2 linked regions of the Homo sapiens genome follow. The protein of the gene in region 2 purifies or fractionates together with the protein of the main gene of each other region. This does not show direct contact. Each region holds a gene or a part of one and is shown on either strand. Other genes may lie near its edges. The genes, in order: DDI2 and ZNF138.

Region 1 (3,824 bases), on a different chromosome or scaffold from region 2:
GAGATTCAGTATGTTGGGGGTGGCAGTTCTCCCACATTAATCCACAGAACCATTGAGATGCCATCAAAATCCTGGTAGATTTTTTGTGAGACTGGATGTGCTCATTTTAAATTTGGCGTGGGCCCTATATTGTGAGAATGGGCAAAATACTCTAGAAAAACATTGCCTTCTAGATATCAAAGGACTATCTAGAAGATATGAGTAGAAACAAACCCATGATTCTATGAACATTGATCAATGAGAGGAAGTCTTACAGAGCAATGGGGAAATGTTAGGAAATGTTGCTGGGACAAGAGGTATCCATGGGGAGAAATGAATTAGAAATCGGACCCTACCCACACCACACAAAAGCAAATTCAGAGTAAACACCTAGATGCAGGGGAGGGAGGATTGCTTGAGCCTAGGAGTTTGAGACCAGCCTGGGCAACGTAGCAGACCCTGTCTCAAAAAAAAAAAAAAAAAACAACCCTAAAACCTAGATGTGGAAAGGAAAATTAAAGATTTTAGCAGAAAATACACAATATCTTGTGTAAGGAAGGAGTTCTTTAAAAATAGGTCATCTGCTGGGTGTGGTGGCTCACTCTTGTAATCCCAGCACTTTGGGACGCCAAGGCAGGGATGACTGCCTGAGGCCAGAAGTTCAAGACCAGCCTGGTCAATATAGCGAGACTCAATCTCTACAAAAAGTTTTTGGCTGGGTGCAGTGGCTCACGCCTGTAATCCCAGCACGTTGGGAGGCCAAGGTGGGTGGATCACGTGAGGTCAGGAGTTCAAGACCAGCCTGGCTAACATGGTGAAACCCTGTCTCTACTAAAAATGTAAAAATTAGCTGGGCGTGGTGGTGCGTGTTTGTAATCCCATCTACTTGGAAGGTTTAGGCAGAGAATCAGAGAACACAGGAGGCAGAGGTTGCAGTGAGCCGAGATCACGCCACTGCACTCCAGCCTGGGCAACAGAGCAAGACTCTGTCTCAAAAAATAATAATGAAAAGAACTTTTCAGCTGGACACGGTGGCTCATACCTGTAATCCCAGCACTTTGGGAGGCCAAGGTGGGCAGATAACCTGAGGCCAAGAGTTTGAGACCAGCCTGACCGACATGGCAAAACCCCGTCTCTACTAAAAATACCAAAATTAGCCAGGCGTGGTGGCACATGCCTGTAATCCCAGCTACTTGGGAGGCTGAGGCAAGAGAATCACTTAAACCCGGGAGGCAGAGGTTGCCATCAGCCAGGATTATGCCATTGCACTCCAGCCTGGGCAACAAGAGCGAAACTCCGTCTCTGTTTTGAAGTACGTAACAATAACCTTTTCTCTTCATGTGCTTTTTAGCTCAGGTTCAGATTGAAGGAGATTTTTTGCCATGTTCCTTCTCTATACTTGAGGAACAGCCCATGGACATGCTTCTGGGACTGGACATGCTTAAACGGCACCAGGTAATTAAGAGCTTCACTTATTTTTTTTGCATCTGCTTTTTGTAATATGGTCATTATCACATTATTTTTATTGGTTACATATACTGGAAAACTAAGAAATAACGACTTTTCAAACCTGGAAATGTCCTTAAATTATGTTGCTATACAGAGGTTGAAATGATGTGTCGATATAGATAGAATCTGTTTTTGTGAAATCTCTCTGTGAATCTGTTAAATCTTGCCAAATGTTTTGAGATTGTAAAGGACAGTTTGGTTCCCTTGTATAATTTTCAGATTCTGGTTAGATCCTGATTAGTAGTTTTTTGATGACCTGACTAAAAAGTGTGAGTCAAGTAAGTCTTTAGCATTCTCTGATGCTGATCAAACAGTACTTGGGAAGAAGACCTTCAAGGTTAAGGAAGGTATATGTTGGGAGTGAAAGTGTTTATTTAGTACAGGGTGCATAATTAATATATTAATTTGTGTTGATATTTATCTTTCTACTCTAAAGCACAATAATTTGAGATATACTGCCGTCGTTGAAGAAGCAGTTAGTCCACTGGGTATTTAGATGAGATTAGGCATGCTCAGGGTGGTATGGCTGTAGACCTCACTGGGTACTTCACATTTTTCACAGTAGGGTTTTATATCCAGTCAACCTGCCAGGTACAGTGGTACATGCCTGTAATTCCAGCATTTTGGGAGGCCAAGGAGGGAGGATTGCTTGAGGCCAGAATGAGTTTGAAACCAGTCTGGGTAACTTAGTGAGACCCTGTCTCTACAAAAAGTACAAAAATTAGCTAGGCGTGGTGGTACATTAGCTACTCGTGAGGCTGAGGCAAGAGGATCCCTTGAGACCAGGCTGCAGTGAGTCAAGATTGTGCCACTACACTTCAGCCTGGGTAACAGAGCAAAACCACATCTCAAAAAACAAAATTGAGTTAAAAACAATTGAAAATATAGCTAATCAATATTTTTATGTCACTATTTTAAAATATTTCTGTAAAAGTAGATGCATCATATTGATAATAAGACACAGCATTCTATTTATTTATTTATTTATTTATTTTGAGATAGCGTCTCGCTCAGTTGCCCAGGCTGGAGTGCAGTGGTGCAATCTTGGCTAACTGCAAGCTTCGCCTCCTGGGTTCACGCCATTCTCCTGCCTCAGCCTCCCGAGTAGCTGGGACTACAGGCACCCATCACCACGCCCGGCTAATTTTTGTATTTGTAGTAGAGACGGGGTTTCACCTTGTTAGCCAGGATGGTCTCGATCTCCTGACCTCGTGATCCGCCCGCCTCAGCCTCCCAAAGTGCCGGGATTACAGGCGTGAGCCACCACGCCCGGCTCACAGCATTCTAAATAGAACGAATGAATGAATGAGTGTATGTATCAATAAAACCTTGTCACTGCCTTTCCTTATTTTTTTAGTCATGGTATAGACCAGCAGTCTCCAACTTTATAGATGTAAATCATATATGTGCACAACTGTCTATTAAGTAGTTATAAAATACACAAAAAAGGAAGTTAGCATTAGCATGGAGTAAAGAATACTGTGGAGATTGCCTTGCGTGGCACAATCTTGGCTCACTGCAACCTCTGCCTCGCAGGTTCAAGTGATTCTCCTGCCTCAGCCTCCCAAGTAGCTGCGATTATGGGCATGTGCCACCACGCCTGGTTAATTTTTGTATTTTTAGTAGAGGTGGGGTTTCACCGTGTTGGCCAGGCTGGTCTGGAACTCCTGACCTCAGGTGATCTGCCCTCCTCAGCCTCCCAAAGTGCTGGGATTACAGGCATGAGTCACCGTGCCTGGCCATTTGTGATTGGAGTTTTAAATTAAGGAGCATAATTTTTCTGCATGGTGTTTTATCTGCTATTATTCTTTGGTTTCTTTCTTCCAAGTGTTCCATCGACCTGAAGAAAAATGTACTCGTGATCGGCACCACAGGCTCCCAGACCACCTTTCTTCCTGAGGGAGAGCTACCAGAGTGTGCCCGGTTGGCATATGGGGCTGGAAGAGAGGATGTACGGCCAGAGGAGATTGCAGACCAAGAATTAGCAGAAGCCCTTCAAAAATCAGCAGAGGATGCAGGTATTTGGGATGGCCAAACTCTTCAATACTTGTTATTGATGGGTAAGCCCGGGAAGTGTGGGCTTCAGAAGGGGTAGGAACCTTTCCAGTTTTTAATTAGTCTCATGGTCCAGTAGTAGATGTGTTCATTATTTGTCTTCTTAACCTCCTTCTTTGATCTTCCTTTTTTTTTTTTTTTTTTTTTTTTGGAGACATTGTCTCACTCTGTCACCCAGGTTGGAGTGCAGTGTGCAGTGTGACATGATTGTAGTTCACTGCACCCTTGACTTCCTGGGCTCAAGCAGTCCTCTCACCTCAGCCTCCTGAGTAGCTGGGACT
Region 2 (3,824 bases):
AGCTCCCCGAGTAAGCAATTCCTGTCCCTTTTAAGGGCTCACAACTCCAAGGGGGTCCACATGAGAAGGCTGTGATCAATTGAGCAAGCAGGGGGTACATGACTGGGGGCTGCATGCACCGGTAATTAGAACGGAACAGAACAGGACAGGGATTTTCACAGTGCTTTTCTATACAATGTCTGTGATCTATAGATAACATAGCCAATTAGGTCAGGGGTCAATCTTTAACTACCAGGCCCACGGTGTGGCGCCGGGCTGTCTGCCTGTGGATTTCATTTCTGCCTTTTAGTTTTTACTTCTTTCTTTGGAGGCAGAAATTGGGCATGAGACAGTATGAGGGGTGGTCTCCTCCCTTATCCCCACCAGAACTTTTTAATGAAGAATTGGAATATGACTTTGTTAATATAGTGGAATATATTTGAGCTTGCATCATGGGTAAGTGAAGAGCTATTACGGTTTTTGGGTGGCCACATCACCCTTGTTTATTTTTCCTGTAACAGCAGCATTCCAATTTAGTGAAACGAAAGACACTGAAGTTATGCTTACCTATAATTATCTCTATTGGATAAATTAGTAACCATGTTATACTAATATCTACTGTAATAATTTGATAGTAACTTTTTTGATTAGATACACTTAGTATAATTTTAATGTACTATTTATAATGTACATAGGATTTTTAAAAATTGTCTGTAACCATAATCCAATTAAAACACTTTATATTCCAAATGTATGAATATAAAAATATTGAAATTACTAAGGGATTCATTCAAAGCAAATATTGTGGTGTTATATTCACACTACTGTATAAAATACTGCTTAATTTATATGAATGCAGTTTGTCTACAAACACTACACATAACTATGCTAATTGTTCTGAAGTAATAAGCAGAAACCAAAGCACAACCACAGACTCCACTGTTCAGTTCATACACTGAACCTCGCTTTTGCAATGTAAGTACTTCAGCCTGCAAATATTAAATAATTACCTTGGATAATCTGTTTTCTGTCAAAGGAGCTTACTTGGTATCTTTTAGTCTTCATCATTCTGTATTGCTAAATGTAATCCTATCTTTGTGCTCAACTTTTGTGTGCTCTTAAAATGAGCTTTAATCTAAACAAATCTGTGTCTACCTTAAAAGATACAGATTAAATGAAAAAAAAAAAAAAAAAACCTTTGCCAAAGCAAAAACAAAGCAATGAATCTGAGGTCCTAGATAAAGACAATCCTGAGTCAAAAACAATGACAAAAGATTTAGCTGTTAATATGATTTACATATCTTTCAAACAACAAAGAAAAAAATCTACATATAATTTAAGTGCTTTAAAGAAAAATAAATTAACAAAATATCCTCCCTTATTTTCATGCAGGAGAATAAACCCTCTTATTTCTAATTTATATTTTCTCCTACAGTGAGATATTGAGAAGTACACAATTGTTATGTAAGAGGGGGGTAGGGAAAAATAGTCACTCATGCCATTGTCTGGCTCAGTGAATCTGCATTTTTTTTTTTTAACATAAGACAAGACAAAACGAGGCAGGGGAACAATCAGATATGCATTTGTGTCTGTTGGGCAGGGGGGTGACTGTATCTGTAAAGATAAGCTATCAGTTTACATTTTAACAGAAACACCTTAGGGTAAAGATCTTGCGGCTCACTAGAAATTTTCTTGTGGGCAAAAGATGGGGGAGGTATGTAGCTTTTCTTCTTGTAGCCATCTTATTTAGGAACTGAGGACTAAGCTCTGAATTTTTTATCTTGCCCAAATTTCTATCTAATTGTTTGTAAGGGGTCATGCCCTACAAACCATAAATTCTCATCAGATGGGTTTTATTTGACCCTATAGATCGTGACTTACTTTCCAATCTGACTCTGGCGTAACATTATGAGACAAGAAAAAAAAAATCAAAATATTTAACACCAAAATATATTTTCTTGCCATGCCTTGAAATTGCCCTGCAAAAGTCTCTTGTGGGAAAAATGTACATTCTATAGACAATCCCCTTTCCTCTTTTGTTTTCCTTCCTTACATTCCAGATCCAGGAGATAATCAATCAACTAAGAGCCAGGCACCTTTTTAAGTCCAGTAAGAAGAAACATTTTTACAACCTGCTGTCTCTGAAGTCTGCTATCTGAGATTCCTCTCCACAATAAAACTTGGTCTCCACAATCCTTTATCTTAACCTGAACATTTTCTTTCTATTGATCCGAGGTCTTCAGATATACTCAACCAACTGTCAACCGGAAAATGTGTAAATTTGCCTATAGCCCGGAAGCCGCCACTTTGAGTTGTTCTGCCTTTCGGACAAATCCATGTATTTCTTAAATGTATTTCATTGATGTCTCATGTCTCCCTAAAATATATAAAACCAAGCTGTAACCCGACCACCTTGGCCTGATCACAGGACCTCCCGAGGGCTGTGTCACAGGCCATGGTCACTCATATTTGGCTCAGAATAAATCTCTTAAAATATTTTACAGAGTTTGACTCTTCGTCAACAGAGCCAAAAGAGGAAGGCAGGTTTGTGTGACCCCGTTCCCAGCTTAACTTTTCTGTTTGGCTTAATGAGTTTTGGGTCCCAAGATTTAATTTCCTTTCACAGGTGCACATGAATAAGGCAAGTTCTTAGAGATTTATGAAGAGACTTAGATTCTGATACAATAGTGGGAGACTACAACACCCCACAGACACTATTAGACACATTATTGAGGCAGCAAATTAAAAAAGAACTAAACTCAATACTTAACCAAATAGCCCTACTAGAAATCTACAGAACTCTCCATCTAAAAACAACATAATATATATTCTTCTCAGCACCATGTGGCACATACTCTAAAATTGACCACGCAATCCAAAATAAAACAATCCTCAGCAATTTCAAACATCCCAAAATTATACCAACCACATACTCAGACCACAGATTGATTAAAATATAATTCAATACAAGGAAAACCACTTGAAACCATACAAGTACATGGAAATTAAACAACCTGTACCTGAATAACTTTTGGGTATATAATAATATTAAGGCAAAATCAAAAAGCTCTTTGAAACAAATGAGAACAAAGTACAGCATATCAGAATCTCTGCAACACAGCTAATGCAGTGCTAACAGAAAAATTTATAGCACTAAATGCCCCCATAAAAAAGTTAAAAAGATCTCAATTTAACAACCTAACATTATGAATAAAATAAGGAGAGAAGCAAGGGGAAACAAACCCCTAAGCTAGCAGAAGGCAAAAAATAACAAGAGCTGTACTGAAGGAGATTTAGACATAAAAAACTATGCAACAGATCAAGAAATCCAGGAGTTAAATCTATTAAAAAAATTAATAAGCTAAATAACCCACTAGCAAGATTAATGAAGATTCAAATAAATACAATTAGAAATGACAAAAGGGACATTACCACTGACCCCAGAAAAATACAAATAACTATTGAAGTCTACTATGAACACTTCCATGCACACAAACTAGAAAATCTAAAAGAAATAGTACATTCCTGAAAAATACATCCTCCCAGGACTGAACAAAAAAGAAATTGAATCTCTGAATAGAACAATAACAAACTACAGAACTGAATTAGTAATAAATAGCCTAGCAACCAAAAAAAGCCCAGGACCAGAGACATCCACAGCTAAATTCTACAAGATGTATAAAAAAAAGAGCTGGTACCATTCTTTCTAAAACTATTCCAAAAAATTGAGAAGACACTCCCTCCTTCAACTCATTAGGTAAGAACAGCATCATTCAGACACCAAAACCTGACACAGATATAAAAAGAAAACTTTATGCAAATATCCTTGAGGACCATTGATATGC

The links.
Region 1: the proteins of ZNF138 (region 2) and DDI2 purify together in Homo sapiens (co-immunoprecipitation; one large-scale study listed by IntAct). This does not show direct contact.

The regions. Positions count from the first base shown.
Region 1 is NC_000001.11:15,648,390-15,652,213, forward strand, and holds part of DDI2 (protein DDI1 homolog 2), read left to right. Parts: intron 1-1,330; coding exon 1,331-1,434; intron 1,435-3,316; coding exon 3,317-3,506; intron 3,507-3,824. UniProt on the Homo sapiens protein: Aspartic protease that mediates the cleavage of NFE2L1/NRF1 at 'Leu-104', thereby promoting release of NFE2L1/NRF1 from the endoplasmic reticulum membrane.
Region 2 is NC_000007.14:64,800,609-64,804,432, reverse strand, and holds part of ZNF138 (zinc finger protein 138), read right to left. Parts: intron 1-3,824. UniProt on the Homo sapiens protein: May be involved in transcriptional regulation as a repressor.